4 separate regions of the Homo sapiens genome follow, and regions 2, 3 and 4 are each linked to region 1. The links come from fine-mapping of genetic effects on gene expression. A gene starts in region 1. Each other region holds a variant in brackets. All regions are shown on one strand. Distances are between the middles of the regions.

Region 1 (7,535 bases):
ACTCTGTCTCAAAAAAAATAAAAATAAAAATAAATAAATAAAATTTTGGCTGGGCATGGTGGCTCACGCCTGCAATCCCAGCACTTTGGGAGGACAAAGCTAAAGGATCGCTTGAGCCCAGGCATTCGAGACCAGCCTGGGCAACATGGTGAAACCCCATCTCTACTAAAAATACAAAAATTACCCGGGTGTGGTGGATCATTCCTGTAATCCCGGCTACTCGGGAGGCTGAAGCAGGAGAATCGCTTGAACCTGGGAGGCAAAGATTGCAGTGAGCCCAGATCGTGCCACTGCACTCCAGCCTGAGCGACAGAGGGTGACCTCTGTCTAAAAAAAAAAAAATAAAAAAATAAAAATTTTTTTTTGTAAAGACAGGGGTCTCACTATGTTGCCCAGGTTGGTCTCAAACTCCTGGTCTCAAGTAATCTTCCCACCTTGGCCACCCAAAGCACTGGGATTACAGGTGTGAGCCACTGCGCCTGGCCTATTTAGTTCTTTATAGTCTCCATATTTTTCTATGCATATACTAAGCATATATTACAAACTATAACTACAGGATCCTACTACACTTGTAATTCGGCAACTTACTCTTACTCTTTTCACTTAACAATGCCCAATAGAGACCTTTATTGTCCAATCATACAAATCTATTCCTTTCCTTTTACTAATGGAGGTCTTGCTGGGAGGATGAGGACATGTTCAAATAGTAACAGCAACCACTATATCCTGGCATGAACTAGGTGCCAGGCTCTGAACTCAGCTCTTTCACATGTTTAACCCTCACAGGCACTGTGTGAGAAAGGTAGTATTATTATTTCCATTTTGCAGATGAGAAACTGAGGTGCAGAGACCTAAAAGCCCAAGATTACATAACTAGTAAGTGGCAGAGCTGGGTTTTGAATCCCGATCTTTCCTGTGCCAAAGCTTTTGCTATGAATAAATCAATAAGTGGTTGCTGGGATCATGGGTCCTGGGGAGAAAGTTCTTTCTTCAGAACCTCCCTTATATGTCCTGGGTTCTTCCTTCCAAGGGTTTGTGGTACTTGGAATCAGCATTAGCCCTTAGGAGCAACTCAGTAAAGGCCCTTCCTTTGCCTCCAGCAATCTTACAGCCATGATTACTTTTCACAGGAAGTGGTGTTTTTGAATATTTTTTCTAAAAATAAGCTATAATTTATTAGAGGCCTTTGAAGACCGGGCCAGGCATTTCAGGACACCCATGTGCCTGCCTGCAGCATAGGAAATTAATCAGAACCCCAAAGTTCCTCCCCTCCTTCCACAGGCCAGTGCTCTAGAAATGCCCAGTGCCTCATTGCAGTTCTCCTAGAGGATTGCAGAGATGCCAAGGGCGGTTTAACACAGATCCACGTCTCTGTAAAGAAGGTGAGAGGAGAAAGGCATGAAGCAGAAATGGGTCAGCTGTGCTGCAAAGAACTCTCAGAGAGAACTACACGCTGACCCCAGCTTGGAGGCATGCTGAATGGCAGAGATGCCCTGGGGCATCATCAGATGTGACTCTGCTGAATCCATCTGGGGTCTGCAGACTGGAGTGCTGGTTTCCATTCCAATGGGAATGCTTTGCAGGGCCACTTTCAGCAAGCCTCTTCCTTTCTCAAGACCCTAAAGTCTTCCATATGAAATGATTAGGTGGATTGTTATGAGGTGCTGTGTGGTGTTAATAACTAGAAATAATACTGATTATAGTAGTTATATATAAAAATACATATATAAATCATACAGTAATTATATATATATATATATATTTTTTTTTTTTGAGACAGGGTCTCGATCTGTCACCAGGCTGTAGTGCGGTGGCATTATCATGGCTTATTGCAGCCTCCACCTCCCAGGTTCAAGGGATCCTCCCACCACAGCCTCCTGAGTAGCTGAGACTGCACGGGCACCACCAGGCCTGGCTAATTTTTAGTATTTTTTGTAAAGACGGGGTTTTGCCATGTTGCCCAGGCTGGTCTCAAACTCCTGGACTCAAGTGATCCATCCCCCTGGACTCAAGTGATCCTCCCAAAGTGGTGGGATTGCAGGCATGAGCAACCGCGCCTGGTCAATATAATACTACTGAAAATAAGAATGACAGGGGCCTGATGTGGTGGCTCACGTCTGTAATCCTAGCACTTACGGAGGCCAAGGTGAGTGGATCACCTGAGGTCAGGAGTTCGAGACCAGCGTGGCCAACATGGTGAAACACCGTCTCTACTAAAAATACAAAAATTAGCCAGGTGTGGTGGCAAGTGCCGGTAATCCCAGCTACTTGGGAGGCTGAGGCAGGAGAATCTCTTGAACCTGGAAGGCAGAGGTTGCAGTGAACTGAGATCGTGCCACTGCACTCCAGCCTGGGCGACAAGAGAGAAAATTCGTCTCAAAAAAAAAAAAAAAAAAAAAGAAAGAAAAAGAAAATAAGAATGACAATCATATTGTTCATATTGTTTGTGGAACACTGTGCCTGATGTTTTCCATACAGTATCTTAGGTAATTTTAAAACAAACACCACAAGACTATATTATTATCCCCATTTTATAGATGAGAAGACAGGCTCAGAGATGGCTATTATGACCCCAGAACATATGATCCCAGGGTTTTCTGGCATCAGAGCTTGAGCTCCACAAACATGTGTGGGTTCTGACCTCCAGGAAGTGCTAAGAAACAAATGGGAGGTCAGTTCTTTATAAGTTGTAGTGTTCATGCCCACGTGAGGGTTAAACACAATGTTATTGGTTATTCAGAACAGGGAGGATTGCTTTCTGGCTGGGAGAAGCTGGGAGGTGAGACAGCAGGGGAAGAGCTTCAGCAAAGGGTCAAATGTGGGAAAGCAGTGGGTGTGCTAAGAGAAGTTTGGATAAACTTTGTGTGTGTGTGTGTGTGTGTGTGTGTGTAAAGGTAGGAAGTGATCATACCAGGCCAGGGCTTTGGCCTTTATTCCATAGGCAATAAAGAGCTTACACAAGAGATGTCTCAAGAGACCAACCATGCTGCTGTAGTCAGAGAGGAAGCAGCCCTCAGCCCATCTGTGTCCTGGCTTGTGAATGCTGCTGCGTGCCAGCGTGTGGGAGGGCATCCGCAGCGAGAGCAGTCTCTGGCTGTGTCCTGTACTATGCTGGGTGTGGGTCTTGGGCTGTCTTTGAAGCCTTCCTCCTGGCTTCTCAGGGCACTAGGTGCCTTTTAGATAGTAGACTTAAAGGAAGTATGTCATAGAAGTATGGGAGGGGATTTTGAGATCATCTGGTTATTCCCCCTTCCCATTTTAAAGAAGATGAAAATCGGGAACATAGATGGGAAAGTACTTGTCTAGCATCACACAAAGAATTAATAGCACAGTGGGGGACGGGAACCCATGCCTCCCGAGTCTGAGCTGAGTTCCTTCTCTGCATTTGCAGAGTAATAGAAATAGGATTTGTTGAGTGATTATTCCATATCAGGTTCTAGGCTAAGCACCTTTCCATTGATTATCTCATTTAATCCTCACAACCCTACTGAGAGTGTCCCGCTTTTTTCTTTTTCTTTTGAGACAGGGTCTCACTCTGTCACCCACGCCGGAGTGCAGTGGCACGATCACGGCTCACTGCAGCCTCGACCTCCCTCGGCTCAAGCGATCCTCCTACTTTAGCTTACCGGCGGGCGCCACCACTCCCGGCTAATTTTTGTATTTTTTATAGAGATGGGGTTTCGCCATGTTGCCCAGGCTGGTCTCGAACTTCTGAGTTTAAGCGATCCGTCCGCCTCAGCCTCCCAAAGTTCTGGGATTACAGACTTGAGCCACCACGCGGGCCGAAAGTGTCCCTCCTGAAATCGAGAAGTCTTGTCTTCCATTTCGATTTCCCAGGGCGCCTAGCACAGGACCCAGCTACGGAGGCAATAAAAACTTGGTGGAGTCTAAGTCCTGGGAAGGGAAAAAAAGGACGGAGGGGGCGGGGCCTACAGACAACCCCGCCCATCACAAAGACCCCGCCTTCCAGAACGCTGACGTCACAATTTGGCCCCGCCCCTCATTGTCAGTCCCGCGGAGCCAGAGGAGGCGCCGGTCGCTGGCAGCTGAGCGGCGGAACCCTTCGCTGGCGGGAGCGCGGTTCGGGGCCGCAGAGGTGAGGGTCCGTGAGGCGGCGGCGGCGGGAGCGCGGCGCGGGGAGGGGAGGGCGGCGGGGTTGGGAGGCCGGTCCCGGGTGAGGTCGGGGCACCCGCGGCCACGGGGCAGAAGAAACCGCGGGCGCAGCCGAGGAGAGATGGGGTGTGGAGTTGGGGGAGAGTTGGAATGGATTTTGGAGGAAGGGCTCAGGAGGAGACCTTTTGGGGCGAGACCCAGCACATGTTTGTGGAGTTGGAGGAAGAGACTCTGAGGAGATTTTTCCTCGGGAGGGGGAGGGAAGGTTCTGAGGAGACTTCTTGGTGGGAGCGAGACTCTGAGGAGAAATGTTTGGGGCAGAGACGCGGAGGAGACATTTTCGAGGGGGCGGCGAAGAGTTTCGGGGGTAGAGTTTGGGGTTGGGGGAGGGGGCGCGGGCCGACAGGGGCGGGGGGCGACGAGGCGGCCGTGGAGGGGGCTGCGCGGGGCCCGGCGGGCACCGGAGGAAGGAAGTGATCAGACAGGAAGGGCCCGGGAGCTGCAGCAGCAGGAGGAGGAGGGCGGTTTGGGAGCGCGTCGGGCCGGCGTGCGGGGCCAGCTGCGGGCGCGGGGCGCGGGCCGCGGGCCGGGCGGGGAGGGGTCCCGCGGCCGCCGCAGCTGTCGGCCGCGCCGGCCCGCGTCCCGGGCGCTCTGCTGGTCTCGCAGCCAGACCGCTGGGCCGGGAAGGAATTCGAGGCATTCGCTTTGTTTAAGTTGCCAGTAGACAGTCCTTAGGACTAATTAATGGTGGAATCTGCAGGGGGACGCCGGCGAGCGGGGCCGGGGCCTCCCCCCGCCCGCCGCGGTGAACTTTCCGCAGCGCGGGGCCCGCCTCCCGGCGCACCCCCGGCCCCCGCCCAGCCGCCCGGGCAGGGAAGGAGCCATGGCTTCCCGGAGCGCAGGAATGAAGTGCGGTTTCTGGGGCTGGTGGCCTCTGGCTGCGGAGCCTGCCTGCAGGGAACCTGGCGACCCGCAGCGGCCGCGCTGGGGCTTCGGAGCCCGGTTTAGAGCTCTTGGAGGTGGCTGCGGTTTCTGTGCATAACCTTGGAGGAGCCTCTGTGAGCCGAGAAAGACCATCTTGCTTTGGAGCATCTGTTTCTTCATCGCGTCAACCCCTTTCCTAACACTGCAGAGCTTGTTGTGGCTTGTTTCGGGAATGCCGAGGCCAGTGCTCACCCTTGCGGGTGGGAGAGGGGAAGAGAGTAGGCACCCCCAAAACCCCTGTAGTGTGATTTCCAGAAGGCCAGACTGCCTGCAGCTCCACCGTCGCACCTTCACTGACTTGAATGACCTTGGGAGAAGGATTGCGCTGCTGAGCCCTTGGTGCCTTATCTGTCGTTGGAGGAGAAAATACTCTCTGGACCTCCCTGCCTTTTGGGGATGTTTTGAGGGGTGGGGTTTGCTCAGGGTATTTCTTTTACAGACGGCTGCAGTTCTGGCCTAAGGAGCTGGACTGGTGTCAGAGCCGGGAGAATTCAGATCACCTAATAAGATTTGACTACCTCAAATTAGGGAGGGAGGGGTTTGGATTTTAGGAGGACATTTCTTTTTGGGGAATCTGGAAGGTGTGTTCCAGATTGCCTTCTGTCACCTTGTTTGCAACTTTGGTAGTATTCATGTGGTTAAATTGAATTACCCCCATAGAAAATTCTTCTTTTGTCAGAAATAATTGTTTTGCTCAGAATTCCCCTGGGGGCAGATTAAGGTTTTGCTCAATTTACTCCTAGAAGAATTTACTCCTAGAAGAATTTTCCAGGTTTCTAAAATTAAATCACTTTTCTAAACATAGTAACTAAAGTTTGAAAAGCTGGAAATAGTGAGCTGGGAAGGGAATGGGTTGGAGTATGAAGAAGGCAGCAAACACAGGTTCATTGTTGACCAGTGATTAATAATGCGGATTGTTAATTAGCCTTCGTTGATTATGAGGTGTTTTCTTAATCTTAAATAATTTAAGACCAAGAAAAGGAACTAATGTTGTTGAGTTGCCTATTCTGTACCCAGTAATTATGCTAGGTGGTATAGATCTTAGGCAGTCTTCCCAAGAATTTTGTGAGGTGGTAGTTAGCATCCCTTTTTTTTTTTTTTTTTTTTTTTTGAGACGGAGTGCTCTGTGTCACCCAGGCTGTAGTGCAGTGGTGCGATCTCGGCTCACTGCAACCTCCGCCTCTCATGTTTAAGCTATTCTCCTGCCTCAGCCTCCCGAGTAGCTGGGATTACAGGTGTGTGCCACCTTGCCCGGTTAATTTTTGTATTTTTAGTGGAGATGGGGTTTCACCATGTTGGCCGGGTTGGTTTCGAACTCCTGACCTCAAGTGATCTGCCCGCCTCGGCCTCCCAAAGTGCTGGGATTACAGGTGTGAGCCACCGCTCCCAGTCAGCATCCCTGTTTTATAGATGAGCAAGCCAAAGGTCAGAAAGTAAAGTGGCTGTCCCAAGTTCACACACACAACTAGTAAGAAGTGGCACTGGAATTCATACCCAGGTCTGTTTCTCAGGTCTGTGGTTGTCTCTCTACTTTGCCCACTGCCTTGGGAATCATGAGACCTAGTTTTTTGGCCTTTGACTCAGCCACTGGGTGACTGTGGGCCCTAGAATAAGTCATTTAAGTCTATTCTCCAATAGTATTGCCTTTTCTTTCAGCAGTGTTGTAAATATGCACTTGAAGTGTGCTGTTTTTCTTTTCTTTTTTTTTTTTTTTTTGGTAAAAAGACAAACATATAAGGCTGTAGTAGTGTAGTAGTGGTATGTACTATATGCCTCTAGGTGCTTACTTATTTCTTATGATGAAAGCATTTCTGTTAAAATGGGGAGTACCTAAGTGATCATATATTTCATTTATGTAATGGAAGTTGATGGATAGCTAATGGCCCTTCCAGTGTAAAGCGGCCATCATTAAGGTAACATTATCAGAAACAGAATCATTTTTCATGTAATACAGCTTTTAGGGACAGTGTCAACTTATGAGTAAAGCATGCTGTTACAGGTAGGACCCGGATAGTCCAGGCTGAAAGATGTGGTATAAACTTTGATGCATATAATAGATGCATAGCAAATATTTGATGAGTGAATGAATGAATGTAATGAATGTATTCCCTTTTTTTTTGGAGTGCAGTGCTGTGATGATGTCTCACTGCATCCTCTACTGCCTGGGCTCAAGTGATTTTCCCACGTCAGCCTTCTGAGAAGCTGGGACCACAGGTGTGTGCCACCATGCCTGGCTAACTTTTTTTTTTATTTATAGAGATGAGGTTTCCCTGTGTTTCCCAGGCTGGTCTCCTGGAACTCCTGGGTTCAGGGGATCCTCCCATGTCAGCCTCCCAAAGTGTTGAGATTACAGGCATGAGCCATCATGCCCTGCCCGGAATGCATTCTTTAAAAAAAAAAAAAAAGCTTTATTGAGGTATAATTTACATACAATAAAA
Region 2 (7,535 bases), 160 kb after region 1:
TTGGAACTTGACGGTGGAAAGAGGTGAGGCAGTGGATTGGAGCTTGTTTTAAATCCTGTAGTTCTATCTGACTTGTTTGCACATTTAATAGTTTGATAAAACTTGAAATTAGATGTTAAAAACATACATACCCTTTGACCAAGTAATTCTACTTTCAGGAAAGCATTCTAGGGAAAGATTCAGTATGTGTACAGATTTAACTTCAACACTGTGTATCTCAGGTTATACGTAATGACGATAAAGGAGAACTAACCTAAAAACCCAACAAAGGCCAGGCACAGTGACTTGCATCTGTAATGCCAGCATTTTGGGAAGCCGAGGTGGAAGGATTGCTTGAGCCCAGGAGTTTAAGGCTACAGTGAGCTATGGTCACGCCACTGCACTCCAGCCTGGGCAACAGAGCAAGACCCTGTCTCTAAAACAATAAAAATTTTAAAAAGCCCCAACAAGTGGTAACCAATTTGATACAATCATACACCGCATAACAATGTTTCCATCAACAACAGACTGCATATGAGATAGTGTTCCCATAAAATTATATAACACATTTTTACCATACCTTTTCTACCTTTTCTATGTTTAGACAGAATTGCTACAGTATTCAGTACAGTAACATGCCATACAGGTTTGTAGCCTATTAACAATACACTATACCATATAGCCTAGGTGTGTAGTAGGCTATACCATTTAGGTTTGTGTTAAGTATGCTCTATGATGTTCACACAACAATGAAATTGCCTAATGGCGCTTTTCTCAGAATGTATCCCATCGTTCAGTGAGGCATGGTCCTAGCAAGGCATGATTCTATATTGGAATATCACAGCCACTAAAACTGATATTTTTACATAAAGAATTCCTGGCCGGGTGTGGTGGCTCATGCCTGTAATCCCAGCACTTTGGGTGGCCGAGGCGGGTGGATCACCTGAGTTCAGGAATAGGAGACCAGCCTGGCCAACAATGGTGAAACCCCGTCTCTACTAAAAATACAAAAATTAGCCAGATGTGGTGGCACTTACCCGTTTTTTCCCCAGAAATAACTAATTCATATCAGATGTTTTTATTGTGATAAAATACACATAACATAAAATTTATGATCCTAACCATTTTGAGTATACTGTTTAGTAGTGTTAGATGCATTCACATTGTTGCATAAACAATCTCCAGAATTATTTTCATCTTGCAAAATTCTGTATACATTAAACAATGACTACATTTGCCCCTCCTTCCAGACCCTGGCAGCCACCATTCTACTCTTTGCCTCTATGAATTTGACTATTGTAGATAGCTCATGTAAGTGGAATCATACGGTATTTGTTTTTTTTTTGTGACTGACTTATTTCACTTAGCTTAATGTCCTCAAGGTTCATCTATGTTGTAACATGTTAGAATTTCCTTCCTTTTTAAGGCTGGTAATATTGCGTGTATATAACATTTTATTATCCATTCATCTGTGGATGGACACTTGGGTTACTTCCACATTTTGGCTATTGTGAATAATGCTGCTGTGAACATTGGTCTACAAATATCTCTTCAAGACTCTGCTTTCAATTCTTTGGGAATACCCAAAAGTGGAATTACTATAGCAATGTATGCTTTTTTTTTTTTTTTTTTTTTTTTTTTTTTTTGAGAAGGAGTCTTACTGTTGTCGCCCAGGCTGGAGTGCAGTGGCGCGATCTCGGCTCACTGCAACCTCTGCCTCCTGGGTTCCAGCAATTCTCCTGCCTCAGCCTCCCGAGTAGCTGAGATGACAGGCGCCCGCAACCACGCCTGGCTAATTTTTGTATTTTTGGTAGAGACGGGGTTTCACCATGTTGGCCAGTCTGGTCTGGGGTGGTCCACCCGCCTCAGCCTCCCAAAGTGCTGGGATTACAGGCGTGAGCCACCGTGCCTGGCTAGCATTTTTTAAAAGCTGATGTCTTCACTGGGCACGGGGACTCACACCTGTAATCCCAGCACTTTGGGAGGCCGAGGTGGGCAGATCATTTGAGGTCAGGAGTTCGAGACCAGCCTGACCAACATGGTGAAACCCTGTCTCCACTAAAAATACAAAAATTAGGTGGGTGTGGTGGTGCGTGCCTGTAATCCCAACTACTTGGGAGGCTAAGGCAGGAAAATCGCTTGAACCTGGGAGGCAGAGGTTGCAGGGAGCCAAGATGGTACCAGTGCACTCCAGCCTGGGCAGCAGAGTGAGAGTCTGTCTCAAAAAAGAAAATAAATAAATAAAATAAAATAATAAAAGTTAATGTCTCCAGGAGGGAGAATTGCTTGAGGCTAGGAGTTTGAGACCAGCCTGGGCAATATAGCAAGACCTTGTCTCTAAAAAAATAATTTTTTTTTTTAATTAGCTGGGCATAGTGGCACATGCCTGTAGTCTTAGCTACTCAGGAGGCTGAGGCAGGAGGATCACTTGAGCCCAGGAGTTGGAGGCTTCAGTGAGCCACAATCACACCACTGCACTCCAACCTGGGCAACACAGTGAGACCTTGTCTCAAAAATAAAATAAAATAATAATAAATAAAAAATTAATGTCTAACTATACAGAGTCCAAAACCTAATCAATATTACATATTATATTAAACAAAGTTACCTTCCCCTAAAGTATCAGGTGACCAATAGATGGGCTAGTATAACTGTGAAAGCAGTTATGTCTAAGTTTGGATAACTTTTCTTTGCCCCTATGATGGTAGGGGCTCTGTATTGGCCATTTTTTTTGCTAGTAGCGAGGCCCAGAAGTACTGGTGAATGAATGAGGAGGCCTACATCACCTGGCTATTGTGAGGACATCATGAGATAATGCTTTCAAACTGCCTGTCAAAGAGTCTGGCACATAGTGGGTGCTTCAGACAAAGGAGGAGTTATTATTATTGTTATGCGGCAGCTGGGTGGGGGGAGGGAGCTGGCTATGACTCAGAGGAGTGGGTGGCCGTGACTCTTGTCATGGAGGGGCCTGAGGCAGGGTCCTGGGGCCTGTGTGCCTCCACGCCATAATGCTGGCAGAACTGATATTTCTCTTTAGGAGTCTCCATGGGATACTTGCCTCCGCAGGCACCATAGGAGCAGTGGCAGCTTGGCTGATGAGCTATAAGCCAGCCTTGTTTGGGTTCCTATTCCTTCTGCTGTTGCTTAGCAACTGGTTGGTCAAGTATGAACACAAGCTCACCCTCCCAGAGCCCCAGCAGGTGAGCACAAGATGGGGCTTGGCTTCAGCTCAGGGATAGGGGATATTTGCAGCTAGATTAGGTGGGTAGGGAACAGGGTAGGTGTCGAAATAATGGGGCAAGACTGGGGAATCCAAGACTGGTCTAAACCACCACTCTACAGCTTCCTCTTAGGTGGTGCTGGGTAAATCACTTCCCTCCACGAGGCCTCAGTTGCCTCACCTCAGCTGTTAAATCAGGACCACCCCAGACTCTCCTATTTCATGTTTGATGTCAACATGCTTTGGCAAGAGTAACAACTACTTTAATGTGAAAAAAATAAAAAAAATTAACATGGACGAACATAGATACGTATCTAAAATAGAATAATGAAGACAGCAGAAATGTACATAGATTATGACATCTTTCATTTAATGTTAAAAAACATGCTAGGCTGGGCGCAGTGGCTCACGCCTGCAATCCCAGCACTTTGGGAGGCCGAGGCAGGTGGATCACTTGAAGTCAGGAGTTCAAGATCAGCCTGGCCAACATGGTAACACCTCGTCTCTACTAAAAATACAAAAATTAGCTGGGTGTGGTGACACACACCTGTAATACCAGCTACTCAGGAGGCTGAGGCAGGAGAATCACCTGAACCCAGGGGACTGAGGTTGCAGTGAGCTGAGATCATGCCACTGCACTCCAGCCTGGGCAACAGAGCAAGCTTCCATCTAAAAACAAAAATAAAAAGCAAAACAGCCTGGCGCAGTGGCTCACAGCTATAATCCCTGCACTTTAGGATGCCGAGGCAGGTCAACGACCACTTGAGGCCAGGAGTTTGAGAATAGCCCAGGCAACATGAGGAAACCCCATCTCTAAAAAAAATACAAAAATGAGCCAGGCATGGTGGTGCGTGCCTGTAGTCTCAGCTACTCAGGAGACTGAGGTGGGAGAATCACCTGAGCCCGAGAAGTTGAGGCTGCAGTGAGCATGCCACTGTACTACAGCCTGGATGACAGAGTGAGACTCTGTCTCAAAAAAAAAAAAAAAAAAAAGGCAAAACAATAGCCTATCTTATTTATGGATGTGTATGTGCAGTGAAAGTATTTTAAGGCAGGATGCCTCAACCTTGGCACTATTGACATATTGGGCCAGATAATTCTCCATTGTGGGAGGCTCACCTGTCACCTGTGCATTGTTAGCTTAGC[G/A]GCCACCCCGGCCCCTACCCATGAGATGCCAAGTAGCACACCTGCCATTTCATGACAATCCAAAGTATTTCCAGATATTGCCAAATGTCCCCTGGGGAAGGCAGAATGCCTCCCATTGAGAACTACTTTATAAAGAAATGCATGGAAAAATAAATTTTAAATGCAGGATTACAGTTAAGGTGATGATATTCAGGGAGGGAGGAGGATGCTGTGGGTGTGAGAGTCCACAGGGAACTTTAGTTATATTTATGATATTTTATTTCTTAAGTTGATATGGGAATATGAGTATTTGTTGTATTATTTACCTTTTTGCATGCCTGATATGTTGAATTTTTTCAGTTAACCTTTTTTTTTTTTTATGTATTTAGTTTTTTGAGACAGGGTCTCGCTCTGTGGCCCAGGCTGGATGCAGTGGCACAACCATGGCTCACTGCAGCCTCGACCTCCCTGGGATCAGGTGATCCTTCCACCTCAGCCTCCCAAGTAGCTGGGACTACAGGTGTGCACAGGGCTAATTTTTTCTAGTTTTTGTGGAGACGGGATTTTACCATGTTTCCCAGGCTGGTTTCAAACTCCTGGGCTCAAGCGATCCTCCTGCCTCGGCCTTCGAAGGTGCTGGGATTACAGCCATGAGCCACCACACCTGGCTTAATTTTTAAACATTTTTAAAGACCATTAGTTTGTAGCTGAATCCAAAAAGAAAAAAAAAATAAGTGTTATTAACCAGGGGAGGGAGAGATGAGGATCATAGAGATAAAAGCATGTCATGAGACCATTGAGACTTCGCAGTTTGAGATCGTACTGAGCCTGACAAAATGCTCAGAGAGGCATGTTGGAAAAACGGGCTCTGGAGATAGATATATTTAGGCTAAGGGCTTTATGTCCACTGTGACTGGCAGATTAGCGGGCCATCTCATGCATTCCTATGAACCAAAGGCAAGTGGAGGACTCGGGAATTTGAGGCTGTATGATGCTGAGAAAGTGACCTCCCAAGCTGGGCCTGGTGGCTCACGCCTGTAATCCCAGCACCTTGGGAGGCCAAGGCGGGCAGATCACCTGAGGTCGGGAGTTCGAGACCAGCCTGGTCAACATGGTGAAACCCTGCCTCTATTAATAATTACAAATACAAATACAAAAATTTCTACTAATACAAAAAGTTAGCTGGGTGTGGTGGCACGTGCCTGTAATCCCAGCTACTCTGGAGGCTGAGGCAGAAGAATCGTTTGAACCCGGGAGGTGGAGGTTGCAGTGAGCCGAGATCACACCATTGCACTCCAGCCTGGGCAACAAGAGTGAAACTCAGTCTCAAAAAAAAAAAAAAAAAGAAAGTGACTTCCCGTTACTGGGTCCCAAGTCTCCACAAAATGAGGCAATGATGCTCCCCTTGCAGGCAGTTGTGAGACTCTGTTAAGATAATGTTTGTAAACCACCTGGCACAGAGCAGGTGTTCAAGCAAGGAAGGGATTATCATTATTAACCAACTTTCCCCTTTTCCTGGTGCTGGGGAGCTTAAAAGGAGGAAGAGAAACCAAAGACTTCTGAAAACGACTCCAAGAACAGCAAGGCCGTGAACACAAAAGAAGTCAATAGAACGCATGCCTGCTTTGCCCTCCAGGACGAGATCCTCCAACGGCTGTTGTTCAGTGAAATGAAGATGAAGGTCCTAGAAAATCAGATGTTCATCATATGGAATAAAATGAATCACCACGGGCGGTCAAGCAGACATCGGAATTTTCCCATGAAAAAACACAGAATGAGGAGGCATGAGTCAATTTGCCCCACCCTGTCTGACTGTACTTCGAGTTCCCCCAGCTAATGAGGCCGAGGCGGGCTGGCCTCTGCCGATGTTACCTTTTACCTCAGTAAAACCCAGTCACAGCCTATTGAATGTTCATAGTAAGTCATAACAGAAAGGTGCCTAGGAGCCAGGAAGAGGATCAGAGGCTGAAAGATTGCCTCTGGAAAAGAAATCTGTACACACCAGGTCTACCAGGTAGCACGTAGTGACACGGCCTGATGGGGCTCTAGAACCATCCCTTTCTAGAGTCTTCTATTTCAGTTGGTTCTACCCTGGTTCCTCCCTGGCCCTGTGCTGTTCACTCTGAGTCTCCCCACTCCTGCCCTAGCCCCTAGTTTCCCCTCTCATCCTGTACCCAGAGGCCGAAGCCAGCCCTGCCAAGCCTGGCTCTGACCATGTCCATTGCTCATTCTTTTTTTTTTTTTTTTTTTTGAGACAGAGTTTCGCTCTTGTCACCCAGACTGGAGTGCAGTGGCACGATCTTGGGTCACTGCAACTTCCACCTCCCAGGTTCAAGTGATTCTCCAGTCTCATCCTTCCAAGTAGCTGGGATTACAGGCACCCGCCACCATGTGTGGCTCATTTTTGTATTTTTAGTAGAGACAGGGTTTCACCATGTTGGCCAGGCTGATCTCAAACTCCTGACCTCAGGTGATCCATCTGCTTTGGCCTCCCAAAGTGCTGGGATTACAGGCATAAGCCACCACGCCCGGCTCGTGTTACTGCATTTCAACCAGAGCTCGGTTGCCCACTGACAGATCTGAGCCGGTGTTCTGTGTTAAAAAGTGAGATCAGCAAGTGTTAGCGTTTGAAAGACAAGCAAGCACCTAGCCGAGACTTTTCTTCATAATGAAAACTGGAAAGGAAATCATTATCTCACTGTTTGATTCAGTGTGACTTAGTGTTAGGTTGGTGTTCTACCTAAAATCGTCTCTCTCATGCAAGTCTCATGCATTCTAACCAAACCAGAGAACTTGCCATCCCCCAAATGCATCCACATAAGCTTACATTGTTTCTTCACGTGATCCCTAATTTTCTCCTTTCTGCTGTTACAATTCTTCACTTCTTCCAAAGCCATCACCTCTAGGAAGCTCCCCTCAAGCCAGCTATAATGAATCTTTTTCCTTAGCATTGTTTCCACATTTTATGTGTAGTTCTACAATAGAATGTTTCACAGTCTGCTGGGATTTGATTTGTACACATTACTACAGTCCCTCCCCATGCTTCAACTAGACTATAAGCTCTTTGAAGACAAGCACAGAATATTGTTCATCTGTATATCCCTCCCCCACCCGTAGCACCTAACACAGTGGCTAGTATACAAGCAGTGCTCAATAAAGAATACCTAGGCCAGGCGTGGTGGCTCACACCTATAATCCTAGCAGGGGTGGG
Region 3 (7,535 bases), 160 kb after region 1:
GCTAGATCTCTGGAGAGGAGGAATGTTGTGCCCTTATAAGGCATAAGTGGAAGGGCAAAAAGGAACAAACTCCTTCTATGAAGCATTTTTTTTTTTTGAGGCAGAGTCTCGCTCTGTCGCCCAGGCTGGAGTGCACTGGCGCAATCTGGGCTCACTGCAAGCTCTGCCTCCCGGGTTCATGCCATTCTCTTGTCTCAGCCTCCCAAGTAGCTGGGACTACAGGCGCCTGCTACCATGCCCAGCTAATTTTTTTTTTTTTTTTTTTTTTGTTTTTTTTTTTTGAGACGGAGTCTCGCTCTGTCACCCAGGCTGGAGTGCAGTGGCCTGATCTCTGCTTACTGCAAGCTCCGCCTCCCGGGTTCACGCCATTCTCCTGCCTCAGCCTCCCGAGTAGCTCGGACTACAGGCGCCCGCCACTATGCCTGGCTAATTTTTTTTTGTATTTTTAGTAGAGATGGGGTTTCACCGTGTTAGCCAGGGTGGTCTCAATCTCCTGACCTCGTGATCCGCCCGCCTCGGCCTCCCAAAGTGCTGGGATTACAGGCGTGAGCCACCGTGCCCGGCCGCTATTTTTTTTTTTTTTTTGTATTTTTAGTAGAGATGGGGTTTCACCGTGTTAGCCAGGATGGTCTCGATCTCCTGACCTCGTGATCTGCCTGCCTCGGCCTCCGAAAGTGCTGGGATTACAGGCATGAGCCACTGCGCCCAGCCCTATCAAGCATTTTATAGTGGCATTGACCCATTCATAAGGGCGGAGCCCTCATGACCTAAATACCTCCCCAAAGGCCACACTTCTCAATACCATTCCATTGGAGATTTTTTTCAACACATGTATTTTGGGAGACACGTTCAGACCACAACATTCTTTCCCTGGTCCCCCAAATTTATGTCCTTCTCATGTGCAAAATATATTTAGTCCATCCAGATAGCCCCCAAAGTCTTCACTCATTCTAACATCAACTCAAAAGTCTGGAATCTCATCTAAATCAGATACGGGTGAGACTCAAGGTACAATTACCCTGAGGCAAATTTCCCTCCAGCTGTAAACCTGTGAAATCGAACAAATTATGTGCTTGCAAAATACAGTGGTGGGGCAGGCATAGGATAGATATTTCCATTCCAAAAGGGAGAAATAGAAAAGAAGACAGGAGTAACAGGCCCCAAGTAAGTCCAAAACTTTTTTTTTTTTTTTGAGACAAGATCTGGCTCTATCGTCCAGGCTGGAGTGCAGTGGTATGATCTCAGCTCACTGCAACCTCGTCCTCCCTGTCTCAAGCCATCCTCCCACGTCAGCCTCCCAAGTAGCTGGGACTACAGGTGCGCACCACCACACCTGGCTAATTTTTTGTATCTTTTGTAGAGACAGGGTTTCACCACGTTGCCCAGGGTGGTCTCAAACTCACGAGCTCACGATCTGCCTGCCTTGGCCTCCCAAAGTGCTGAGATTACAGGCGTGAGCTACTGTACCTGGCCTCTAAGTACAAAACTTAACTGTGCAAACAACATTAAATCTTAAGGCTTGCATAATCTTTGAGTCCATGTTCTGCCTCCCAGACACACTGGTATGAAGGTTGGGCCTCCAAGACTTTGGGCAACTCTACCCCCGTGGCTTTGCTAGCTGCAGTTGTCACACACATCGAAGGTGGGTGCTTGGAGTAGCACACTAATGCTCTACAATTCTGAGGTCTTCCCACTCCTATGGCTCCACTAGGCACTGCCCTAATCGGGACTCTCTGCAGAGGTCCCAACCCCACAGTTCTGCCGGGCATTGCTCTGGGTTTGGGGGGCGGCTCTCTGTAGTGTAGTGGCTCTAGGTCTCTGCCTAAGTCCCCAGGCTCTCTGAGGCATCCCTTAAAATCTGGGTGGAGGAAGCTATGGCTTCACAGATCCTGCACTCTGCACACCTGCAGAATCAGCACCACACGGATGCTGCCAAGACTCACTGATTATGCCCTCTGGAGCAGTGGCCCCAGCTGCACTTAGACTTGCTTTAGCCACACCAGCAGAGGCTGGTGTGCTGCACCAGAACACAGGGAGGTGGTCCTGGAAAGCAAGCCCTGATGTCCCACAGGGTCCCCTGGGCAACTCCTCCAAAACTGTTCTGCCTCCAAAGTCCTAGCACTCTGAGCCTGTGATGGATTTGGCAGTGCCCGAAGATCTTCGAGATGCCTTTGGGGTCATTCTCCCATTGTCTTGATGAATAGCATCTGGCTTCCTTCTATCCATAGTGATCTTACCAAATGGTCCTTTGCTTGGTTTAGTGTTCTCTCCTAAAAACACTTTTTAATTCTTTACATGGCCAGGCCTGAGAAATTTCCAAATATTTATATTCTGCTTCCCCCTTACCAACTCCCTTTTTTTGAGACAGAGTTGGAGTCTTGCTTTGTCATCCAGGCTGGAGTGCATGGCGCAATCTTGGCTCCCTGCAACCTCTGCCTTCCGGTTTGAAGCAATTCTCCCGCCTCAGCCTCCTGAATAGCTGGCATTACAGGTGCCCGCCACCACACCTGGCTAATTTTTGTATTTTTAGTAGAGATGAGGTTTCACCATATTGGCCGGGCTGGTCTCGAACTCCTAGTCTCATGGTGGCTGCCTGCCTGGGCCTCCCAAAATGCTGAGATTACAGGTGTGAGCCATGGTGCCTGGCCTGCTTCCCTTTTAATTATAAGTTCCGCCTTTAAATCATTTCTCTCTTCTTGGACTTTACTGAAAGCAGTTAATAGAAGCCATGCAGCGTCCTGAACACTTTGCTGCTTAAGGATTTCTTCTACTAAATATCCTAGTTAATCAACTCTTGTAAACCAAAAAGTATCTGAGACAAGTCTCAATCAATTTAGAAAGTTTATTTTGCCAAGTTTAAGGATGCATTCATGACACAGCCTCAGGAAGTTCTGACAACATGTATGCCCAAGGTGGTCGGGGTACAGCCTGGTTTTATACATGTTAGGAAGTCATGATACATCAATCAATATGCATAAGTTGTACATTGGCTTTGGGAGGCCAAGGTGGGGAGATCACTTGAGGTCAGGAGTTTGAAACCAGCCTGGCCACTGTGGTGAAACCCTGTCTCTACTAAAAATACAAAAAAATTAGCTGGGTGTAGTGGTGGGCACCTGTAATCCCAGCTACTCAGAAGGCTGAGGCAGGACAATCGCTTGAACCTGGGAGGTGGAGGTTGCAGTGAGCTGAGATTGTGCCACTGCACTCCAGCCTGGGTGA[C/T]AGAGCAAGACTCCGTTCTCAAAAAAAAAAATAATAATAATAATACATTGGTTCAGTCCAGAAAGGTGGAACAGCGGAACAACTCAAAGCAGGGAGGGAGCTTCCAGGTCATAGGTTAGAAACAAACAATTGCATTCTTTTGAGTTTCTGATTACCCTTTCACTGAATACACACTTTCCGGGAATAACCACTTATGCCTTAGTCTGGCTTAGTGAAACAATAGGGCAAAGGAAGCAATCAGATATGCATTTGTCTCATGTGAGCAGAGGGATGACTTTGAGTTCTGTCTGTTCTTTGTCCACAGTGAATTTCCTTGTGGGTAAATTGTGAGGGAGGTATGTAGCTTTTTAATCTTTGTAGCTATCTCATTTAGGAATAGAATGGGAGGCATGTTTGCCTAACACAGTTCCCAGCTTGACTTTTCCTTTTGGCTTAGTGGTTTGGGGATTTGGAGATTTATTTTTCCTTTCACACTTTCCCCCTTTTCTTTTTGAAACCTTCTGGAGAAAGCATTTCAGAAGAAAATGAGTCTCTGGTCTCAGGTTTATTTTTATTTTTTAGAGGCAAGGTCTTACTATGTTTCTCAGGCTGGTCTTGAACTCCTGGGCTCAAGTGATCCACCCACCTCAGCCTCCCAAAGTGCTGGGATTATAGGAGTGAACCACCGCACCTGCCCTGGTCTCAGGTTTTGTCTGATCTTTCATGGCTAGGATGGTTTATTCCTAGATGGGAAGGTCCCATTTTATTAGTGTCAGGTCTCTGAGCACAAGCTAAGCCATTATAACCCCTGTGACCTGCACGTATACATCCAGATGGCCTGGAGCAAGTGAAGAACCACAAAAGATGACATTCCACCATTGTGATTTCTTCCTACCCCAGCCCAACTAATAAATCAACCTTGTGACATTTCTCCCCTGGACAATGAGTCTTAGGATTTCCCCACCCTGCACCTGGTGACCCCCACCCCTGCCCGCAAGAGATAACCACTTTTAACTGTAATTGTCCACTACCTACCCAAATCCTATAAAACTGCCCCACCCCTATCTCCCTTTGTTGACTCATTTTTTGGCCTCAGCCTGCCTGCACCCAGGTGAAATAAACAGCTTTATTGCTTACACAAAGCCTGTTTGGTGATCTCTTCACATGGACGTGCGTGAAAACTTGGTGCCGAAGACCCAGGACAGGAGGACTGCTTCGGGAGACTGGTCCCCTGTCCTCACCCTCACTCCGTGAGGAGATCCACCTACGACCTCAGGTCCTCAGACCAACCAACCCAAGGAACATCTCATGAATTTCAAGTCGGGTAAGCGGTCTTTTCACTCTCTTCTCTAGCCTCTCTCACTACCCTTCAATCTCCCTGTCCTTCCAATTCCAGTTCTTTTTCCTCTCTAGTAGAGACAAAAGAGACACATTTTATCCGTGGACCCAAAACTCCGGTGCTGGTCACGGACTCGGGAAGACAGTGTTCCCTTGGTGTTTAATCACTGTGGGGACGCCTGCCTGATTATTCACCCACATTTCAGAGGTGTCTGATCACCACGGGGACACCTGCGTTGATCCTTCACCTTGGTGGCAAGTACCACCTCTCCTTGGCGGCAAGTACCACCTACCCTGGGTGGCAAGTACCACCTCCTCTGGGCGGGAAGTACCACCCCCCTCTCTCCGTGTCTCTACCCTCTCTTTTCTCTAAACTTACCGTTTTATTGTGGGCAACCTTCCTCCCTCCATTCCTCCTTCTCCCTTAGCCTGTGTTCTAAAAAACTTAAAACCCCTTCAACTCACAACTGACCTAAAACCTAAATGCCTTATTTTCTTCTGCAATACTGCTAGGCCCCAATACAAACTTGAAAATGGCTCTAAATGGCCAGAAAATGGCACTTTCAGTTTCTCCATCCTACAAGAGCTAGATAATTTTTGTCGAAAAATGGGCAAATGGTCTGAGGTGCCTGACGTCCAGGCATTCTTTTACACATCGGTCCCTCCCTAGCCTCTGCTCCTAATGCAACTCATCCCAAATCTTTCTTCTTTTTCTCCTGTCTGTTCCTTCAGTCTCCACCCCAAGCTGTGGGTCCTTTGAATCCTCCTTTTCTATGAACCCATCTGACCTCTCCCCTCTTTCCCAGGCTGCTCCTTTCGAGGTCCCAATTCTTCCTCAGCCTCCGCTCCCCCACCCTATAATCCTTCTATCACCTCCTCTCCTCACACCCGGTCCAGCTTACAGTTTTGTTCTGCGACTAGCCCTCCCCAGCCTGCCCAACAATTTCCTCTTAGAGAGGTGACTAGAGCTGAAGGCACAGTCAAGGTTAATGCTCCTTTTTCTTCATCCGACCTCTCCCAAATCAGTTAGTGTTTAGGCTTTTTTTAATCAAATATGAAAACCCAGCCCAGTTCATGGCCCATTTGGCAACAACCCTTAGATGCCTTACTGCCCTAGACACAGAGGGGCTAGAAGGCTGACTAATTCTCAATATGCATTTTATCACTCAGTCCACTCCTGACATTAGAAAAAGCTCCAAAAATTAAATTCTGGCCCTCAAACCCCACAACAGGACTTAATTAACCTCACCTTCAAGGTCTGCAGTAATAGAGAAGAGGCAGCCAAGTGGCAACCTATTTCTGAGTTGCAATTACTTGCCTCCGCTGTGAGAGAAACCCCAGCCACATCTCCAGCACACAAGAACTTCAAAACACCTAAACCGCAGTGGCCAGGCGTTCCTCCAGGACCTCCTCCCCCAGGATCTTGCTTCAAGTGCCAGAAATCTGGCCACCAGGCCAAGGAATGCCCGCAGCCCGGGATTCCTCCTAAGCCGTGTCCCATCTGTGCAGGACCCCACTAGAAATCAGACTGTCCAACTTGCCCAGCAGCCACTCCTGTAGCCCCTGGAACTCTAGCCCAAGGCTCTCGGACTGACTCCTTCCCAGATCTCCTCAGCTCAGTGGCTGAAGAGTGACACTGCCTGATTGCCTCAGAAGCCTCCTAGACCATCACAGATGCTTTGGGTAACCCTTACAGTGGAGGGTAAGTCCGTCCCCTTCTTAATCAATATGGAGGCTACACACTCCACATTACCTTCTTTTCAAGGGCCTGTTTCCCTTGCCTCCATAACTGTTGTGGGTATTGATGGCCAGGCTGCTAGACCCCTTAAAACTCCCCAACTCTGGTGCCAACTTGGACAACATTCTTTTATGCACTCCTCTTTAGTTATCCCCACCTGCCCAGTTCCCTTATTAGGTCAAGACATTTTAACAAAATTATCCGCTACCCTGACTATTCCTGGACTTATAGCCACATCTCATTGCTGCCCTTCTCCCCAACCAAAAGCCTCCTTTGTGTCTTCCTCTTGTATCCCCCCCCCAACTTAACCCACAAGTATGGGACACCTCTACTCCCTCCCTGGCAACCGATCACATGCCCATTACTATCCCAATAAAACCTAATCAACTTTACTCCACTCAGTGCCAGCATCCCATCCCACGACAGGCTTTAAGGGGACTAAAGCCTGTTATCACTCACCTGCTACAGCATGGGCTTCTAAAGCCTATAAACTCTCCTTCCAATTCCCCCATTATACCTGTCCAAAAACCAGACAAGTCTTACAGGTTAGTTCAGGATCTGTGCCTTATCAACCAAATTGTCTTGCCTATCCACCCCATGGTGCCAAACCCATATACTCTCCTATTTTCAATACCTCCCTTCACAACCCATTATTCGGTTCTGGATCTCAAAGATGCTTTCTTTACTATTCCTTTGCACCCTTCATCCCGCCTCTCTTTGCTTTTACTTGGACTGACCCTGACACCAATCATTCTCAGCAACTTACCTGGGCTGTATTTCCACAAGGCTTCAGGGACAGCCCTCATTACTTCAGCCAAGCTCTTTCTCATGGTTTACTTTCTTTCCACCACTCTGCTTCTCACCTTATTCAATATATTGATGACCTTCTACTTTGTAGCCCTTCCTTTGAATCTTCTCAACAAGACACCCTCCTGCTCCTTCAACATTTATTCTCCAAGGGATATCGGGTATTCCCCTCCAAAGCTCAAATTTCTTCTCCATCCATTACCTACCTCAGCATAATTCTTCATGAAAACACGCATGCTCTCCCTGCCAATTGTGTCTGGCTGATCTCTCAAACCCCAACCCCTTCTACAAAGCAACAACTCCTTTCCTTGCTGGGCATGGTTGGATACTTTTGCGTTTGGATACCTGGTTTTGCCATCCTAACAAAACCATTATATAAACTCACAAATAGAAAACTAGCTGACCCCATAGATCCTAAATCCTTTCCCCACTCCTCTTTCCATTCCTTGAAAGC
Region 4 (7,535 bases), 61 kb after region 1:
AGGGGGAAAGAGACAGGTGGTGATGGGGTAGGACGGAAAGTCTGTGGAACTGTCCTAAAACTATTTGAATACCAATCACACTTACTTTAACTTCCATTGATTATTTTTTAAAAGCAGAGGGTGGAGAGCTAAAGCTTCCCCCACATCCACCTAAGCTATCTCTTGGGTGCCGCCTTGGTATAGATCGTTTTTAAAATTATTTTTAAATATAGAGCGTCACTCTGTCATCTAAGCTGGAGTGCAGTAGGACAACTGTGGCTCACAGCAGCCTCAAACTTCTGGGCTCCAGGTGATCCTCCCGTCTCAGTCTCCCAAGTAGCTAGGACTATAGGTGTGCATCACCATGCCCAGCTAATTAAAATTTTTTTTTTTTTGTAGAGATGGGGGCCTTGCTTTGTTGTTGTCCAGGCTGTTCTTGAACTCCTGGGTTCAAGCAATCCTCCTGCCTTGGCCTCCCAAAGTGCTGGGATTATAGGCATGAGCCACTGTGCCTGGCCTAGATCCTTTTTTATACTTATTTTCTAGCTGTTTTTATTATCAGTAACTTTTTTTTTTTTTTTTTTTTTGAGACAGCGTCTCACTGTGTCGCCCAGGCTGGAGTGCAGTGGCGCGATCTGGGCTCACCACAAACTCCGCCTCTTGGTTTGAAGAGGTTCTCTTGCCTCAGCCTCCTGAGTAGCTGGGATTATAGGCACATGTCACCATGCCCAGCTAATTTTTGTATTTTTAGTAGAGATGGGGTTTCACCATATTGGCCAGGGTTGTCTTGAACTCCTGACCTCAGGTGATCTGCCCGCCTTGGCCGCCCAAAGTGCTGGGATTACAGGCGTGAGTCACCGTGCCTGGCCGATACTATCAGTAACTCTTCTCTTTGGGAGGCCAAGGTGTGAAGATTGCTTGAGGTCACGAGTTTCAGACCAGCCTGGGTGACATAGTGTGACCCCATCACTACAAAAAAAAATTCTTTTCAAATTTTATTCTCTTGAGGCTTGAGTTACTACTGTTCCCCTCATCTTTTAAGCTGTTTTTAAAAAACTCTCATTATTTGTCCATTGTAATTCTAGCCGCCTTGCTCTCTGGGAAGATAGAGGCAGGGATGGGTGTGTGTGTGTGTGTGTGTGTGTGTGTGTATGTGTGCGCGTTCATGCATGCGCGCAGGTGCAGGTATGTGTGCATGTGTGCATGTTTTGGTGGAGGTGTGGAAGTTGGATTAAAGGGACCAATAGTCTTGGAAGGCAGTCACAAGGTGGCTTGCAGGGATGTGTAAGGGAGGCAGTTGTGATGAAAGAAGGGAGGATAGTTTGTAAGATCATGTACAAAAGCTTTAGGTTTACCACTAGCTTAGAAGCTACCTTTCCATTTTCCTCAAGAGTAAGATAACACAAGAAGTTTGACCCAGATCTTCCATCTGTAGTAGCTCTTCTCTAATTTTAGGGGTAAGATTCAATGGGATGGTAGGCTTTTCAACTCTCCTGTAGAAGCCTGCTTGTTTCAAAACTGGAGGGTAAGTTTGCAGAAAGAAAAGCTCTATTTTTAGTTTTAATTGATATTGGGTGGTTCAGGGCTCTTTTGAGGACCGAGTCTAGAGGGCAACAAAATGAGAGCCAGCATGGTGAAGGGACTTTCAAAGTCAGACAGACTTGAGTTTAAACTCTGTCATTTAATAACAAGCTGTAAGACCTTGGACAAGTCACTTCTTGAAACTTAAATTCTTTATCTGTAAAGTAGAGGTAACATTATCTTCTTATTGTCTTATATAAAACATAAAGCATAGTGCTCAGGGTTGGTAAATACTCCGCAGATGTTTTTTTCCTATCTTCTAGAACATCTTATTTTTAGTAGAATCCTTGCTTTTCTGCTAAATAATTGTGTGACTCACCCTTTCTAAGTTTTAGTTTCCTTCTGTAAAACAAGGACATTTAACTGAAGGTTGAGTATCCCCTTATCCGAAATCCCTGGGACCAGAAGTGTTTTAGATTTCAGATTTTTAAAAAAAATATTTGCATGTATACAGTGACATGTCTTGGGATAAGACCCAAGTCTAAACATGAAATTCGTTTATGTTTCCTATACACCTTATACATATAGCCTGAAGGTAATTTTATTTTTCCCCAGGGGACATTGAATAAACCTGAGTATTGTGTGCCTGTATTTTGACTGCGACCTATCAGATGAGATCAGGTATGGAATTTTCCACTTGTGGAGTCATGTGGGCACTCAAAACATTTCAGATTTTGGAGCATTTTGAATTTGGGATTTTCAGATCAGGGATGCTCAACCTGTAGCTGATTTCTGAGATGCTTCCTAGCTGTAAGATGTCATGTACATTTTTAGACTGTTGAGGAATGTTCGGGTGTTTTAATTTAAGCAAAGACAGTGGGTTCTACCCTAGGACCATATCATCTTATAGGAAAGGGGAAGTCTCCTACAGCCAAATTCTTTCTTGACTTTCCTGAGAGAGACATAGCCAGCTTAGCCAGGTTCCTTTAGTGTCAGGATCTAGATGCAGATCTTACCTTGGCCCCTTGCTGACAGTGAATTGTATGTGAAAGTCTTTGGGACAGCCCTCTGGGTCACCTCAGTCTTGGTATGATTCATGCATTACCTATCTCTTCCATTCTGTTTATATTCTATCCAGGTCAAGAGACAACTGCCTTTGAAAGAGAGTGAGTGACTGTTTCCAAAACAGCAAGCATAGGGAGAGCCGCCGGAAGTATTGACGGAAAGCTTGAATTACCTACATGGTAAGTATGTTGTACAGTGAAACCTGGGTGTACCAATAGAATTGGGTGGTTTCTGAAGCCACTATAATTTTGCCACTACTGGAAGTGGGGAGGAAAGTCAGTATTTGTGATGGCCTATTATGAACCAAATACTATGCTGAGTACTTAACCAACCAACCTGATGAGGGTGAAAAATCCTTGCATGAAGTTAGCAACCGTAAGAATTAGGCCACCCTTAAGAAGTAGCTACCATTTATTGAATATTTACTCTATGTCGGGCGCAGTCCTGTTGGACATGTTATCGCCCTACCAACCCTGTGAGGTAAGTACTGTTGTCATCACCACAAGGAAACAAGCTTAAAGAGGTTAAATAACTCTTCCAAGTTCACACAAGTAGTAGAACTAGGTTTCAAACCTGCATTATTTTCTTTCCTTTTTTTCTGAGACTGGGTTTCGCTCCCATTGCCCAGGCTGGAGGGCGGTGGCGTGATCATGGCTCACTGCAGCCTTGACTTCCTGGGCTCAGGTGATCCTCCCACCTCAGCCTCCCTAGTAACTGGGACTACAGGTGTGCACCACCATGCCCAGCTAATTTTTTTGTAGAGACTGGGTCTCT[G/TTG]TATTGTCCAGGCTGGTCTCAAACTGCTGGGCTAAAGCAGTCCTCCTGCCTTAGTCTCCCAAAGTGCTGGGATTACAGGCATGAGCCACCACCCTAGTGGGTTATTTTCATTACACTATAATGTTTCCCTTTTAAGAAAGTTACTTTTTGGTTGAGGCTGTGACTGATTTAACCTTGGAAAAGCAAAGCAAAATACAAAACCTTTTGATCAACAATTAGGTTCTTTTCCTAGCCATTTATGGATTTTATGTGCCAATATTTTATTGGTTGGTGTTGGCTAAGGCAGAGGAGAGCACTAATGAAATAGAAGAGATAGAAGTGAGAACTTGAACGGTCAGTGGCCAAGAGACCTGGTGGTCTTGGTTGCTCCTGATAGCTGGATGATAGTTAGAGAAAGCTTCCCTAGGAAAGTAGAGCAATAGGGTAGCTCAGAATGAGTGGGAAATGGGTTCTCGTCATAGCAGTGACTGGGCATAGGAAAGGAATCTTAACAAAGCCTCTTGCTCTCATGTCAACCCCTCTGAGGAAATAGGTGTAGTTAGGGATAATACAGAACTCTTCTCGAAGGAGTGGAAAAATTCAAGGCAAACTCTTGCCCTGTATTTTTTTATTTTTTGCAAGGCGTAGTCTTGCTCTGTTGCCGAGGCTGGAGTGCACTGGTGCGATCTTGGCTCACTGCCTCTGCAAACCTCCTCCTCCTGGGCTCAAGCGATTCTCCTGTCTCAGCCTCCCGAGTAGCTGGGATTACAGGTGTGTGCCACCACGCCTGGGCTAATTTTTGTATTTTTTGTAGAGACAGGGTTTCACCATGTTGGCCAGGCTGGTCTTGAACTCCTGACCTCAGGTGATTTGCCCACCTTGGCCTCCCAGAGTGCTGGGATTATAAGTGTGAGCCACTGCACCCAGCCTACACATACCTATTACACATAAAATATTTTGCTATATACTGGGGCTAATGTTCTGATGACAAAAAATGGCCACTTACTACACGCTTTAGTTATCGGAACTAAGTATACTGCATTAAACAAAATAGAAAAAGTCCTTTCTCTCAAGGATTATATTCTAATGGGTGGAAACAGATAAAAATGAATAATTAGATATAAATAAATAAACAGGTGAGTAGACAAATAACATCCACTAGATAGTACATGCTAAGAAGACAAAAAAGCAGCGTAAGGTGATAGTGGTGGGGAGCTGAGGGATTGCTCCTTTATGTACAGCAATCAAGGAAGGCCTCTGATGAGGTGATATTTTAAGCTAAGATCTAAAAGAAGTGAGGAGTCCAGCTAGGGAGATATCTGGGGGAAAAGCATCCTAGGCAGAGGGAACAGCAGGTATAAAATCTCTGAGGGATGAGTGTAACTGGTCATGTATAAGGACCCATAAGGAGGCCGTGTGGCTGGATTGGAGTAGTAGGGAAGGAGCAGCAGATGAGTGATGGGACCTAGATCATGTAGGGCCTTACAGCCATGTGACACCTTTGGAGTGCATTGTATTCTAAGTGAGGTGCACTAAAGAGCTTAGAGCAGAGGAGTGACTTGATCTGACTGATGTTTTAAAAGGCCTACTCTGGTTGTTGTGGGAGAACAGACTGTGGAGGGTGGGGAAGGATGGACACTGATGGGAGCAGGGAGACAAGTTAGGAAGCTTTTGCAGTAATCAGTAGTCCAGGGCAGGGATGATGGTAGGTTGGACCTGGGTGGTAGTGGTGGCTAACCAGAAAGCAATGGCTTCTAGACATACTTTGAAGGCTCTCAAATTCTAATTCTCCCCATAGACCTGTTTGATTTTTTTTTAATTTAAATTTTTGGTTTTGTTTTTTGAGACAGGGTCTCACTCTGTCACACAGGCTGGAGTATAGTGGTGTGATCTCAGCTCATTGTAGCTTCGACCTCCCAGGCTCAGTTGATCCTCCCACCTTAGCCTCCTGAGAAGCTGGGACTACAGGTGCATGCCACCACTCCCAGCTAAATTTTGTATTTTTTGTAGAGAAAGGGTTTCACCATGTTGCCGAGGCTGGTCTTGAACTCCTGGGCTCAAGCTGTCTGCCTGCCTCAGCCTCCCAAAGTGCGCTAGGATTATAGGCATGAGCCACTGTGCCCATTTGAGAGGTGTTTGATTTATTTGGAGTTAACGTCTGGGTCACAGGGGTTTGAGGATGTCATTGGAAACTTGACAGTGATCTCTGGTAAAATTCTAAAATTGATTGATCAAAGAATGAGAACAGTGATCCCTAGAAGCCAGCTTGTGTTCACTAAGAATAAATCATGCTAGCTGATAACAATTCTTTTTTTTCTTTAAGCCTTGCCATGATTTTATTTAAACGATCGGTACAAGTTCAGTATAAAAATATTAGAGAATAGACATAAGCAAAAACAGAAAAAAAGCACATTATCCAGAGATAATTACCATATAGCAGTTTGATATATATATCAGAGCATTTCATTTTTGGAAAGATTCCTAGGTCGCTGGAGGATTGGAATGTGCTACAAAGGTAATGTGTCTTAAGTGCTAACATTAGGTATTTAATGTTTTCTCATGTGATCCCAAGACAAAAAAAAAAATTTTACCTGGCTTTGGAGCTTCTTGAATAGTTGCACTCAGGAATTGTAATAGATCAGTGTTAATCTATAGGAGGTGTTTTTAATGATTTTGGTTATATTTTGTTTTTGAACATCAATTTGGATGAAGATATAGAAAAGACATGCCTATGAGACTTAAATAGCGAATGTTTGCAGGCTAGACAGTGTAGAGAATATTTAGTCAAGGGATTGAAACTAAGAAGTTGAAATCCAAAAATAATAAATAATAATTTAAGCTGAAACTTACATGACACTTACTATAGACCAGGTACTAGTCTAAGCAATTCTTGCATTAACTTATTTACACATACCATAACCTTATAGGTATTGAAGCATAGAGAATTCAAATGACTTATCCAAGGTCACACAGCTAGTAGCTAATAAAGTCAGGGTTTGAACTTAGGCTGCCTGGCTTCAGAGTTCGTAAACTTTAATCATTGTATCACGTTGCCTGCAAAAGAATTAAGCCCCATATTTCAATTATTAAAAATGAGATTTAACAGTTTATTTGGAAACAAAGCCAGTATGAACCTACAAATTGGTACTGTGGCTATCAGATTCGTTCATGCAATCTTGGACTTCATTATTAGAACTGGGCAGACCAGGTCATCTTTCATCCATCCCACCCTTTTACCCCATTGCTACTGTCCTGGTTCAGGCCCTTATCCCATCTCTTGCCTTGACTATTACAATAGCACCCTAGTTTATCCTGCTAGAATGGCCTTTCAAAAACTGCAGTTCTGATTGTGTTACTCTCTTACTTAATCCCTTTGTCCAATACAGGTTGCAAATTTGCTTCCCATATCCACTTGCAGGCATGTATGTTTTGGAGGGACTATACAGTGGTATTCTTTTTATTTCCTCTTTTTTGAAATCTGAATTCATTGGCTACATTTAAGAGATTATATATAAAAGTAGGGCATAGCCCCTCTTAGCCATAGTCCTTCTAGGCCCTTTAACTCATTTAAATCATTGGCCTGATCTCTTTGGCACCTGCATTTCAGCCTCTGGCATAAAGGCTAAGCATCTTTCCTAGAATGTAGTGCCTAGATCTGAAAATAGTCCCCTTTATGTAAATTTGGCCAGTACAGAATACAATAAAACTATTACATTAATTTATTTACAAAACATTTATAAGGTTCCTACCTTGCCCCTGTCACTGTATTCAGTGCCCAGGACTGAAAAATGAAGATAACACAGTCCCTGCTCTCAGAGCCCAGCAGAGGATGACAGATATTTTAAGTATCATGGATATAGTGATAGAAGCATCTACAGAATTTAGGATGGTGCATTTCTCTTGCGGGGAAGGATGGTTTGAAAAGGCCTCAGAGAACAGATGCATTAAAAGATGTTTACCATTGGGCCAGGCGTGGTGGCTCACACCTGTAATCCCAGCACTTTGGGAGGCCGAGGCTTGTGGATCACTTGAGGTCAGGAGTTCAAGACCAGTGTTGGCAACATAGTGAAACCTGTCTCTACTAAAAATAGAAAAATTAGCTGGGCGTGGTGGCGCACACCTGTAATCCCAGCTACTCGGGAGGCTGAGGCAGTTCTCGAGAATCCCTTGAACCCAGCAAACGAAGGTTGCAGTGAGCTGAGATCGTGCCTCTTCAC

Direction of the effects. Alleles are on the strand shown, and positions count from the first base shown. SD is a standard deviation of normalised expression in the study named. Not every link is listed here.
For the expression in skeletal muscle of the gene that starts at base 4,006 in region 1, allele G in region 2 goes with a lower level than allele A (large effect, 0.80 SD a copy in FUSION).

The links. PIP is the estimated chance that this variant, and not a neighbour inherited with it, causes the effect. A credible set is the group of variants that fine-mapping cannot tell apart.
Region 2: its variant is the best candidate, but not a certain one, in a credible set for the expression of LUZP1 in skeletal muscle (FUSION, PIP 0.52).
Region 3: its variant is the best candidate, but not a certain one, in a credible set for the expression of LUZP1 in whole blood (INTERVAL, PIP 0.80).
Region 4: its variant is the best candidate, but not a certain one, in a credible set for the expression of LUZP1 in whole blood (INTERVAL, PIP 0.65).

What each region holds. Positions count from the first base shown.
Region 1 is chr1:23,165,327-23,172,861 of GRCh38, reverse strand. LUZP1 (leucine zipper protein 1) reads left to right here and starts at 4,006. Exons shown (of 4, transcript NM_001395462.2): 1 at 4,006-4,096. RefSeq lists enhancers at 3,112-3,161, 4,237-4,768, 4,769-5,300 and silencers at 3,807-3,866, 4,858-4,997.
Region 2 is chr1:23,009,527-23,017,061 of GRCh38, reverse strand. It overlaps TEX46 (testis expressed 46), which reads left to right and starts at 1,210. Exons shown (of 3, transcript NM_001242521.2): 1 at 1,210-1,290; 2 at 3,017-3,179; 3 at 5,961-6,228. The coding sequence starts at 1,289. The coding sequence ends at 6,161. RefSeq lists an enhancer at 5,502-6,701. The variant G/A (reference allele first, on the strand shown) is at 4,346.
Region 3 is chr1:23,000,837-23,008,371 of GRCh38, reverse strand. No RefSeq gene overlaps it. Among named protein-coding and RNA genes, the nearest start is that of TEX46, 11 kb to the left of the region's middle. The variant C/T (reference allele first, on the strand shown) is at 3,220.
Region 4 is chr1:23,104,231-23,111,765 of GRCh38, reverse strand. LUZP1 (leucine zipper protein 1) reads left to right here. Exons shown (of 4, transcript NM_001395462.2): 2 at 2,639-2,744. Among named protein-coding and RNA genes, the nearest start is that of LUZP1, 61 kb to the left of the region's middle. The variant G/TTG (reference allele first, on the strand shown) is at 3,340.